Homo sapiens: one gene and its partners. The protein of the gene in region 2 interacts with the protein of the main gene of each other region in a pairwise test. Each region holds a gene or a part of one and is shown on either strand. Other genes may lie near its edges.

Region 1 (3,659 bases), on a different chromosome or scaffold from region 2:
TCCAGGCATGAAGGCAAGGTTTGACCTCACTCAAAAGTTAGTGAACTGAAAACAGACCAAGGGCCTAGGCAGCCTCCACACACACCCTGCCAGCCACGGAGCCGCCCGCTGTGGACACAGCCCCAGGTGCCCGGACTCACCACGGCAGCAATGTTTTCATGGTAGTGCCTGTAGGTGAAGCCGTCTTGCATCGTGATGGTGGCCAGGGCCTCCAGGACTGAGGCGCTGAGGTAAAAGAGGGCAGCGGTGCAGTGGTAGGCTGCGTCCTATGGGGCAGACGGGGTGTCAGAGGGATGGGGAGAGAGAGACGGGGCCCAGATGCAGAGCTGAGGTCCCCTCCACCCCCGCCCCTTGCCTCTCCCCCCACTTCCTTTGAATCCCACCCCTCCCAACCTTGTCACGGAGGTCCCATGCCTGCCCTGCTGTGCTGAGTCTCACTTCACTGCTGTGGGGCCAGAGTGAGCACTTTGCTGGGGATGGGACACTGGTCTCCCCTGAGGAAGGGTCAAGGGAGAGGTGGAGGAAGGGCCAGCAGCTTGGGGTGTCCCAGGGAAAAGCTGGTCCTGGATCTGAGAAGTGTCGTGCATGGCCACAGTCCAGGTTGGGTGTGGCCTCGCTGACCAGTGCAGGGTGAGGGAGGACCATGCTGTTTCTTTCGTTTTGTTTTGTTTTGTTTTGTTTTGTTTCATTGCTTATTTTTGGCCCCTGGTATATTTAAAAGCAAAAAAGGGCTGGGCGTGGTGGCTCATGACTGTAATCCTAGAGCTTTGGGAGATTGGTGCAGGAGGATCTCTTGAGGCCAGGACTTGAGACCAGCCTGGGAAACATAGTTAGATCCCCATTTCTACACAAAACAATACATCTTAGCTGGGTGTGGTGGCACATGCCTGTAGTCCCAGCTACTCAGGAGGCTGTGGCAGGACGATCACTTGAGCCTGGGAGGTTGAGGCTGCAGTGAGATGAGATTGCGCCACTGCACTCCAGCCTGGGTGACAGAATGAGACCCCCAACTCAAAATAAAGTAATAAATGAAAGCAAAAAGGTACTAAAACAGGGTTTTGTGTAGTTGTGATTTGGAAGTGATTTCAAAAGTCTAAGTAGCAGAGCTTTTGAGAGTGACAGCCTTGGCCAAATGGCCCCACCACCCCTACAGCAGGTAACAGGCAAGTGTCCTACATGTAAAAGTTACCTTTTCATGGGTCTCAAAGCAGAATTTATACAGAATAATGACCAAAGGCCGCTTCTGTTTCCCAGTGCTCTCTGGCAGCCCTGCTTGGAAGGCAGTGGCTGAGGAGCTGGACAGTAAGCATGGCCTGACCCTCAGAGCCAGGGCCAATTTCTGGAGCCCAACACCTTGGTCGGCCTCTGGGGCCCTGCTGCCTTGAGGTGAAAACAGCCCTTGCAGGTGATGGGAGGGGCAGGCAGGCACCTGGCGGGTACAGGTGGTGTGGGGGCTGGGCAGCTGGTTATCCATGGAAAGGCAGTCATGCAGGAGAACACAGAACAGGTCCAGTGAGGGTTGGCAGCGGCGACCTTGCCTCTGCCCCTGCCTCTCCTGATTCTGCTGCCAGGAGCCCTGGGCAGGCTCAGCCTTGGAACATGGTGGGGTGACATCTACGGAGAAGTCTCACCTGGCACTGGAAAAGCCCATCCTACTGGGCCAGGGACCAGTACTTCCTGCGCCCCCCTACAACCAGCAGCCACCCTGGGCTGGACTCACCAAGGTGACCCAGGAAGTCTCTCCACCGTGGGCTCCAATTATGTACAGGATGATCAAGGTGGTGGTGGCCACGAAGCAGAACACAGACACGAACATCACCCAGCCCTGGACCAGGGGCCAGGGCACCAGGGAGGAGGCCACCAGGATCCACACCAGGCCCCCGAAGATCTGCGGGGGAGGAGGAGGGGTGAGTTTTGGCCTAGAGGAGAGCCCCAGCCCAGGAAGGGCCCCCGACCAGCGGTCACATGGGGTGACTGGAGTGCAAAAACACAGGAAGCAGGCAAAGAGAACAGGGCAGGCATTTTCCTCTGCAAAAATGCATCTTTAGTCCCCCCAGGGCCCTGTGCTGGATCTCAATCCCAATCCCCGGCACGCTTGCCCTGATTAACTTTTTAAAACTTTTTTTTCTTGAGACAGAGTCTTGCTCTGTCACCCAGGCGTGAGTACAGTGGCGTGTGGCTCACTGCAACCTCTGCCTCCTGGGTTCAAGTGATTCTCATGCCTCAGCTTCCTGAGTAGCTGGGATTACAGGTGCATGCCACCATGCCCAGCTAATTTTTCTATTTTTGGTAGAGACGGGGTTTCACCATGTTGGCCAGGCTGGTCTTGAACTCCTGACCTCAGGTGATCTGCCCTCCTCAGCCTCCCAAAGGGTTGGGATTACAGGCGTGAGCCACTGCACCTGGCCTGAGTAACTTTTTAAATATGGGTTTAATTTTTTTATTTAACAAACACTTATATCAGACCTACATTCCAGGCACTATCCTAAGCACTTTACAAATAATAACTCAGTGATTCTCACAGTAACCCTCTGAGCAATGCTGACCTGTTTGCCAGATGAGGAAACTGAGGTAGGTGGAAGTTAAGTAATTCATCATTCTGAGAAAGGATTTATGCCATTTGGTATTGTCATGAGAAGAGCTGCTATTTCTTCTGATATTCTAGCCCTCCTACTTGCTTTGATATTAAAATGTCCTTTCCTTTATGCAATGGTAGTGACCAGCAGATCTTTTTGGTCTTTATTTGGCAAAACAAATTAACCACACTGTCAGTAGTCCCCTGCCCTGCCCTTCCTTTCTTTCTCTCTCTCTCTTTCCTTCATTTCTTCTTCCCTCCCTCCCTCTCCTTCCTTCCTTCTTTTTCTTTCTTTCTTTCTTCTTTCTTTCTTTCTTTTTTCTCTTTCTTTCTTTCTCTTTCTCTCTTTCTTTCTCTCTCTTTCTCTCTCTCTCTTTCTTTTCTCTCTCTCTCTCCCTTTCTCTTTCTCTCTCTCTCTCCCTTTCTCTTTCTCTCTCTTTCTTTCTCTTGCTCATTATTTCTTTTTCTGGATTCAACTGTTTATATTCCCAAGTCCAGGAAGTGTTCTGATGATCAGATTTGGAGTTGGAATGGAGTAACCAAGGACAGCCTTGTCTCTTTGGATGGCTGAGGATGGGCATGAGGAAAGTACAGTCCCGTGGTTATCCAGAATACACCCCAGTTGATGTCGCCAGGGTCAGTGAGCCCCATACAGTCAAAGAGGAGCAGACATGGGGGCCAGTAGCACCCCTCAGTAGCCCAGCCCCGCTCCTCGCCGTGGATGGACACATACAAACCCGCTCCCCACCGCGGATGGGTACGTACAAACTCCGTTCCTCACTGTGGACAGGCGTGTACAAACCCCAGCGGGGACTTTCTGCACTTCTCTTTCCCTTCTCCTCATCTCCCCCAGCGCCACCCCCACCCAGTAAGAATCAGCTCAGCCTCATCCACATGTTCCCCACTTGGATGAGGACTGGGCTCGAAGCACTCCAGGCCTATGTGGAGATTCCTTTGCAGCCAAAAGTCTCCAAGGTACTACAGAAGTGTCTGGGGGGCTGAGGATGGGGCTGCCCTCCCAGGCCTATGTCCCCTGTGGTTTGAATTCACATAGCACCTTGACCCCCCCACCTCCCTGCACCTG
Region 2 (3,117 bases):
TGTACAGAGGGTAAATGAAATAACTTTCGCTGAATATTTGGTCTATAATACTGTTACATTTCCTCTATTATTTTAACATCTTTTGAAAAATTCAAATTTTTACTGTTCATTCACATATCATTTTAAATTGAGGTTTAGTTCACATACGATGAATGCACAGCTCGTAGGTATACAGTTTAACGACTTATGACAGTGGTATAACCACAAGACCAGCAACATTTGAATCTTTCCATCACCCTAGACAGTTTGCCCTGTGTCCCATTCCAGTTAAATTACCTTTCCTACACACACAAAGGCAACTACTGTTCTGATTTTTGACACCAGAGCTTAGACCAACTATTATTTAAAGTCATGTAAATGCAAATATGTAGTATACAATCTTCTGTGGCTGGATTTTTTTTCACTCAACATTTTTTTTGGAGATTCCTTCATTTTGTTGCATGTATCAGTTGTCTTATTTTGAATTGCTGAGCGGAATTCCCTTGTATGGATATACCATAATTTGTTCACTTATTTTCCTGTTGGTGGATATTTGGATTATTTCTGGAATTTGGCTCTTAAGAATAAAGCTGCTAGGAGCATTCTTGCACAAGGCATTTTGAGAACATATTTTCATTTTTCTTGAGGATATACATAGGAGTAGGTTTGTTGGGCCATAGAAAAGGCATATATTTAATTTTATAAGAAACAGTTTCCAAAGTGTTTTTCCAATTTACTCTCCCACCAATAATATCTGAAAATTCCAGTTGCTCCACATCTGCAGCAACTTCACCAAAAAATACTGTCACGTTTAAAATTTTGTTCAGTCATTTTAATGTCAGATATTTATATAGCAATTCAATATTTTACTTTATGATATTATCCATATTTATCCCATTCACATCATTTCTCTCAAACAGTAACTACAAGGAGATTAAGGAATTATGCTAGAATTTTTTATTTATTTATTTATTTATTTTTTTAGACAAGGTCTCACTCTGTCACTCAGGTTAGAGTGCAGTGGTGCAATCTCCGCTCACAGCAACCTCTGCCTCCCAGGCTAAAGCGATCCTCCCACTTCAGACTCCCAAGTAGCTGGGAACACAAGTGCGTGCCACCATGACCAGCTAATTTTTTGTATTTTTGGTGGAGACAGGGTTTCACCATGTTGCTCATGATGGTCTTGAACTCCTGAGCTCAGGTGATCAATCCACTCACCTCGGCCTCCCAAAATGCTGAGATTACAGGTGTGAGCCACCATGCCCTAGAATTTTTTTATGTGTCTTCTGGGGCATGTGCATATTTAATAAACGTTCTTATCATCATTAAAACAAACTGATTATATACTTAGAATTTTCATAGTTACTAAGTGTATAAATCATATGTGTCAGGTAAATATTTTGGGGAGACACTTTATAATCTCATCATTATGCTTGAATTGTTTCATTTCAAGCCAACAATAAACTATTCAAATTCACTCAAAATTGGGGGTAAATTAACTTAGAAATTTCTATAAAGAGACGGGGAAATTTCATATAATGAGATAGGAAATATTAAGTTTAAATGCCTCAAAAGAATGTTGCATATTCCTATAGTACTTCTATAGTCTGCCTGAACTCATCATCAACTTTCTCCCTTCCAGATGATGCCACCAGTCCCCATTTCTCAACACGTCATGAAGGGTCCTTCCAAGTTCCTGTCCTGTGTGCTGTAATGAATGTGGTCTTCATCACCATTTTAATCATAGCTCTCATTGCCTTATCAGGTGGGTCTACACTTCATCAATTCTTTCAAAGCCTCCTAGCTGTAAGCATTCATGCCCAGCTGAAATCAATATTAGTTTAGTCTAGTTAATCAGAAACTAGCTAATTCAGAATCATCCCATGTACCATATATGGCCAATTTCCTAATCAATACTAAACATAATTCCACAATCCTTGAATAATTAATGTAATACTTTTATAAGTATTAAAAGTATCTATGATTTATATATTACTGTAGAATAAAATTGCATTTGAAAAGATGTTTACATCTAGAATGAAGGGAGCTGATTTGAATTCTGAATAAATACCTATTTAGCTAGAAAAAAATGTGAACTTCACATTCATTGATTATGGAAAAAAATCGTATCTAAAGCCATAGATTAATCAGGAAGTGGCCAGTCTTTTGTGTTTTATCTCAAAGGACACAGAATGGTAGTTCTGAATAATTAAGATTATATTTAAAAGTTCCCAGAGAGTCAGTAGTGATTTGGTATTCAATACCTCCAGCTGTACCAAGATATATTTGTATCTTTTACAAATGGGAATGTTTACCATTGTTTTGAGATATTCTGAGTCATATGTCTTTCTGTATTTTGAATTGGTTCCCTAAAAGTTAGTTACTCTCTCCATCTTTCCAGCCTAGTGCTATAAATACTGCATCTTCAAATTCTTCCGCCTCTGCATTCAGATTCAAAACCTTATTTGAAATGTATAATGCACTTTATCCTTTCTAGTCCAAAGAAATATCTAGTCCAAATTTTCAGAATTGTTCTATATTTCTGTCATTTTCTGACATTATGACCAAAAGTACATCCCCTCATCCTCATATCTCCATCCAATGATGATTAGGCACAATGGAAGATCAGATATGGTCCTGAGAACTTTCTTTCTTCATACCCTTTTCAGAATTCTACTTTTTAGCTTTTATCCTTTACTTTATCACCACCTAGCACAACATAGCATCCTAAGGCTAGTTTTGCATGCTGTGGGTATTTGGTTTCTTTTGTTACTAAAACAAAGCATTTTTCTGTTCACAGTGGGCCAATACAATTGTCCAGGCCAATACACATTCTCAATGCCATCAGACAGCCATGTTTCTTCATGCTCTGAGGACTGGGTTGGCTACCAGAGGAAATGCTACTTTATTTCTACTGTGAAGAGGAGCTGGACTTCAGCCCAAAATGCTTGTTCTGAACATGGTGCTACTCTTGCTGTCATTGATTCTGAAAAGGACATGGTAAGAATAAAAAAAAGATAAAATACTACTATTTTAATTCATATGGCTAATCAGTGCTTTCCTTCCGTTTCTAAGTGGAGAAAACAAACAAACAAACAAACATTGTACCTATTTCAGATGTAGGAAAATGTCATCCCA
Region 3 (3,659 bases), on a different chromosome or scaffold from region 2:
TCAGAGCTTTGAACAGATGATCCATTGGTCCCAGGCACCTATACAATCTGAAATCCAAATCTTATGGTTTTGTAAAGAAAAGTTCTAAGCAGCCCATGAACCATTCTGGATTAAGCTGATCCAGGCAGATGTATTAAAGCAGACACTTAGGGTGGGGTATCTGTGAGTGATTATGGACAATACGGAAGAGTAGAGAAGGGTTGGTTCTATAAGTTATAAGGCCAAGTCTAAATCCTGATGCAGACTCTCAACTGCTGCAATTCTGGGATAGCAACTTCACCTCTCAGCCTCAGTTTCTCCTACTCTCAAAGCAGGATAATCCCACCTGCCTCAATAGACTGCTTTTAGGATCACATGCAATAATGTAAATAACAATTGCAAAATGGCTGGCAATTTATAAAGTGCTTTCCTGTGCATTACTGGTGTTATTACCTTGGCGAAATTTTAGCCTACTGACCTCTAGCAGTTTCTATTCTTACACTGTAAATCTTATGGGATGGGCTCCAACACAACCATTGCAGTATGTGTTCTCCCATATGTGGGTGATTATATAAAAAGAAACACATCTTATCTCTCCAAACACTGAGGTTTTTCATCCATTCATCTAAGCACTCAACAAACAATAATTATATTTTAACATCCTGACTGAATGTAGTTATTAGGCATTAAAGATGTGAAGACAGTGAGATGAAGAGCCTCGTCTCTGATTAAAGAATGTTGTTACACGAGAGCTAAGAATCAGCTCAACTTGCACAACCTGCAGTATTAAGAAAGATGACCTTTGTAAAGCCAATTTTACAGTTGTGAAAGAACAAAAAATTTCAAGGTGGTATCTGAACATACTAAAAACATACATAATAGCTTTACGTGTAAAAATGAACTGTTGGGAATGAAGTATTATTCATTAACCCCTATAGTAGTATAATTTTTCTCAATCAATCATAAACTGTGCATTAGTTACAAATAATCTTAGGTAGGTGTTGTAAACATCAGAATACACTTCAAAAAGGAAATTTCAAATATATTAACATCTTTATTAATATTTGAAAAAACAAACAAAAGAAAGCCCAGTTATACAGTTGAAAAGCACAGAGCTTGAAACTTTTCTACTTTGGAAGGTATTTTGTCATCAATACAGGGTGTTAAAGCAATTATCAAACTCATTTTGACATAAGTCAGAGATCATTTAAATTGTTTGTAGGTTTGACATAAAATTCTTGAAAGCAAATCTGGGAAATGATGGCACTAGCAGGACTTTGTAGAATATAAAAAGGGCATTTTCTCAGAAAACAAACTATTTTACGCCTGAATAGCGTTACCTGGCATTGACTGGGGTCATAGGGTCATAGAATTCTTGAACGATTCTATTGCCATACCATGCTGTGGCAACTAAAATAGCCAGACCTATAGAAATTCAAAACAAAAGACTGTTAATCACCATGGAACACTGAGCCTAAATACACAACCTGTTAAACCAAAACATATTTTGCAAGAATTAAATCTCATCAATAGTGTTGACATTTTTATTTTGGTATTAGGGAGATTAGAAGTCCAGATATGATTTATTCCAAGTATCTATTAAAATATAAAAAAATACTAGGTTGGCATTAGACAAAATTTATACTTTTTTATGATATCTTGGCACAAATAATTCTTTTTTGGAAACAATTAGGCAGGTGTATGTTGTACAAAATCTCTTTTAAATATGCTGTTATACATTAGGATACTAAACTACATTTGATAAAACTATTGTCATTATTAGTACAGGTAGAATTACTTGCAAAAGGGGAAGATGAAAACTCTTCTATGTTCTTGATCAAACTCAAAATTTACATTTCTGCAGAGTCAAAAGGAATGCAAGCAGCTAGATAGAGTGAGATCAGGACATGTCTCAGAATGGACCAGAATACCTGCATTACTACTGCCCCATTGGCCAAGGGAATACCTGATATAGGTATAGGTTGGCCTGAGATTTGTTGAGGGTGCCACATCAGATCAATTTATGCAACCCAATCTCAATTTCCCATGGCATTTTATATTCAATGATAGCAGAGAAATCATTTAGTCAAAATCATTCACTTAATCATTTATAAGATGTATAAAATACTTCATTTTTTTATCAAAAAAGTTAAATAACTTTTTTGTAGTAATTCTAAGTATTCATCAATATAGATAGATTAGATGTTTCTATGCTACTGTCTCTCCCCAGCCAAAAACATGGTCCAATGTAATTGCCTCTAGACATGACAGAAAACACTATTGCTTTTGGCTTCTCAAATAGACCATGCGAATGGTCTTGAACTTGTGATGCTTACTCCTAAGAGAAGTCCCTGAAACTGGAATAGGAGTGATGCAGTCACATGTGGGAGTTACAAGAAGGCAAGCGAAGGAAGAATGCAATGCATTTCATCCTCATCGTCTTCCAAGCACTTCATACACTTCATGCCACGATGGCCACAAAGATTACTATTCGCAGCCTTTGATATAAGAGTAAATTATTGGGAATAAGACACTATCCATGCCTTTTCAGAGAGGAGTCAATTTGTATTTGGGTAAACTGAGAGACTGGTCATTTTAAACTAACCACATCTTTAGCAAAGCCACAGATACTCTTCCTCAATTACTGGTTAAACTGACATATTATACTGAAGCAAAAGCCCCTACAAGTCTTCTGTCAAAAAGAAAATAAGAAAATAAAGTCTATTCTAGTTTTTTTCTATTAGTAGATTTGTATCATTAATTATATCTGTTATTTTTTTAAAATAATATACTATAATATACTACATATATAATATATGCATCTAATACCTAATATAGAGAACATATAGTAGTCTATTATTATAGCTGTATAATTTATATGGAGATTATCAACATATATAACACAGTGTATAGATATAAAGATATATATATACACACAGAGAGATTGCATATGTATGTACATATACACACGTAAGTATACATACACTATAATTTTTTAAATAGGCATTATTATAAAGCTTTGAAATAATGCTGTCCATGTTTTCTGACTTTGATTTTCTCAAATGACACATAATGTAACTTATCAATCAACACTTGAATTAAAAAACAGATATTTCTTTTCTTTTCTTTTTTCTTTTTTTTTTAGACAGTCTTCTGTTGCTTAGGCTGGAGTGCAGTGGTGCGATCTCGGCTCCCGAGTTGAGGTGATTCTCATGCCTCAGCCTCTGGAGTATATGGGATTACAGGCGTGCACCACCACACCCAGCTAATTTTTGTGTTTTCAGTAGAGATGGGGTTTCACCATGTTGGCCAGGCTGGTCTTGAACTCACGACCTCAGGTGATCCGCCCTCCTCAGCCTCCAAAAGTGCTGGGATTACAGGCGTGAACCACCACACCTGGCCTAAAAAACACGTATTTATTTTAAATGGAAAATATAATATTATTTTATCAAAAAAATTTAAAGGTATTTCTGTATTTTTTTTTTCCTAACTGCTTTAAACTGACCATTCCAACAGGCCACCTCTACTCCAGTTGGCCTTTCTTTTCATTGATCTACAGGCACATCCTGTTTATTCTCGAATTAGATCTGCCCAGCTGGAATGCTATCCTTATTTTTCTCCAATAATCCCAATCCTTCCATCCCTCACAGACCTGAAGGGTTCACATATTCTTGTGTTTT

The links.
Region 1: the proteins of CD69 (region 2) and MAL interact in binary tests that used the Homo sapiens proteins (3 or more experiments, as listed by UniProt).
Region 3: the proteins of CD69 (region 2) and CLDN1 interact in binary tests that used the Homo sapiens proteins (3 or more experiments, as listed by UniProt).

Annotation. Positions count from the first base shown.
Region 1 is NC_000002.12:95,046,188-95,049,846, reverse strand, and holds part of MAL (myelin and lymphocyte protein), read right to left. Parts: intron 3,333-3,659; exon of another isoform or gene 3,069-3,332; intron 2,572-3,068; exon of another isoform or gene 1,889-2,571; coding exon 1,721-1,888; intron 267-1,720; coding exon 141-266; intron 1-140. UniProt on the Homo sapiens protein: May be involved in vesicular trafficking from the Golgi apparatus to the cell membrane. Plays a role in the maintenance of the myelin sheath, and in axon-glia and glia-glia interactions.
Region 2 is NC_000012.12:9,754,924-9,758,040, reverse strand, and holds part of CD69 (early activation antigen CD69), read left to right. Parts: intron 1-1,621; coding exon 1,622-1,744; intron 1,745-2,779; coding exon 2,780-2,979; intron 2,980-3,117. UniProt on the Homo sapiens protein: Transmembrane protein expressed mainly on T-cells resident in mucosa that plays an essential role in immune cell homeostasis.
Region 3 is NC_000003.12:190,308,850-190,312,508, forward strand, and holds part of CLDN1 (claudin-1), read right to left. Parts: intron 1,405-3,659; coding exon 1,320-1,404; intron 1-1,319.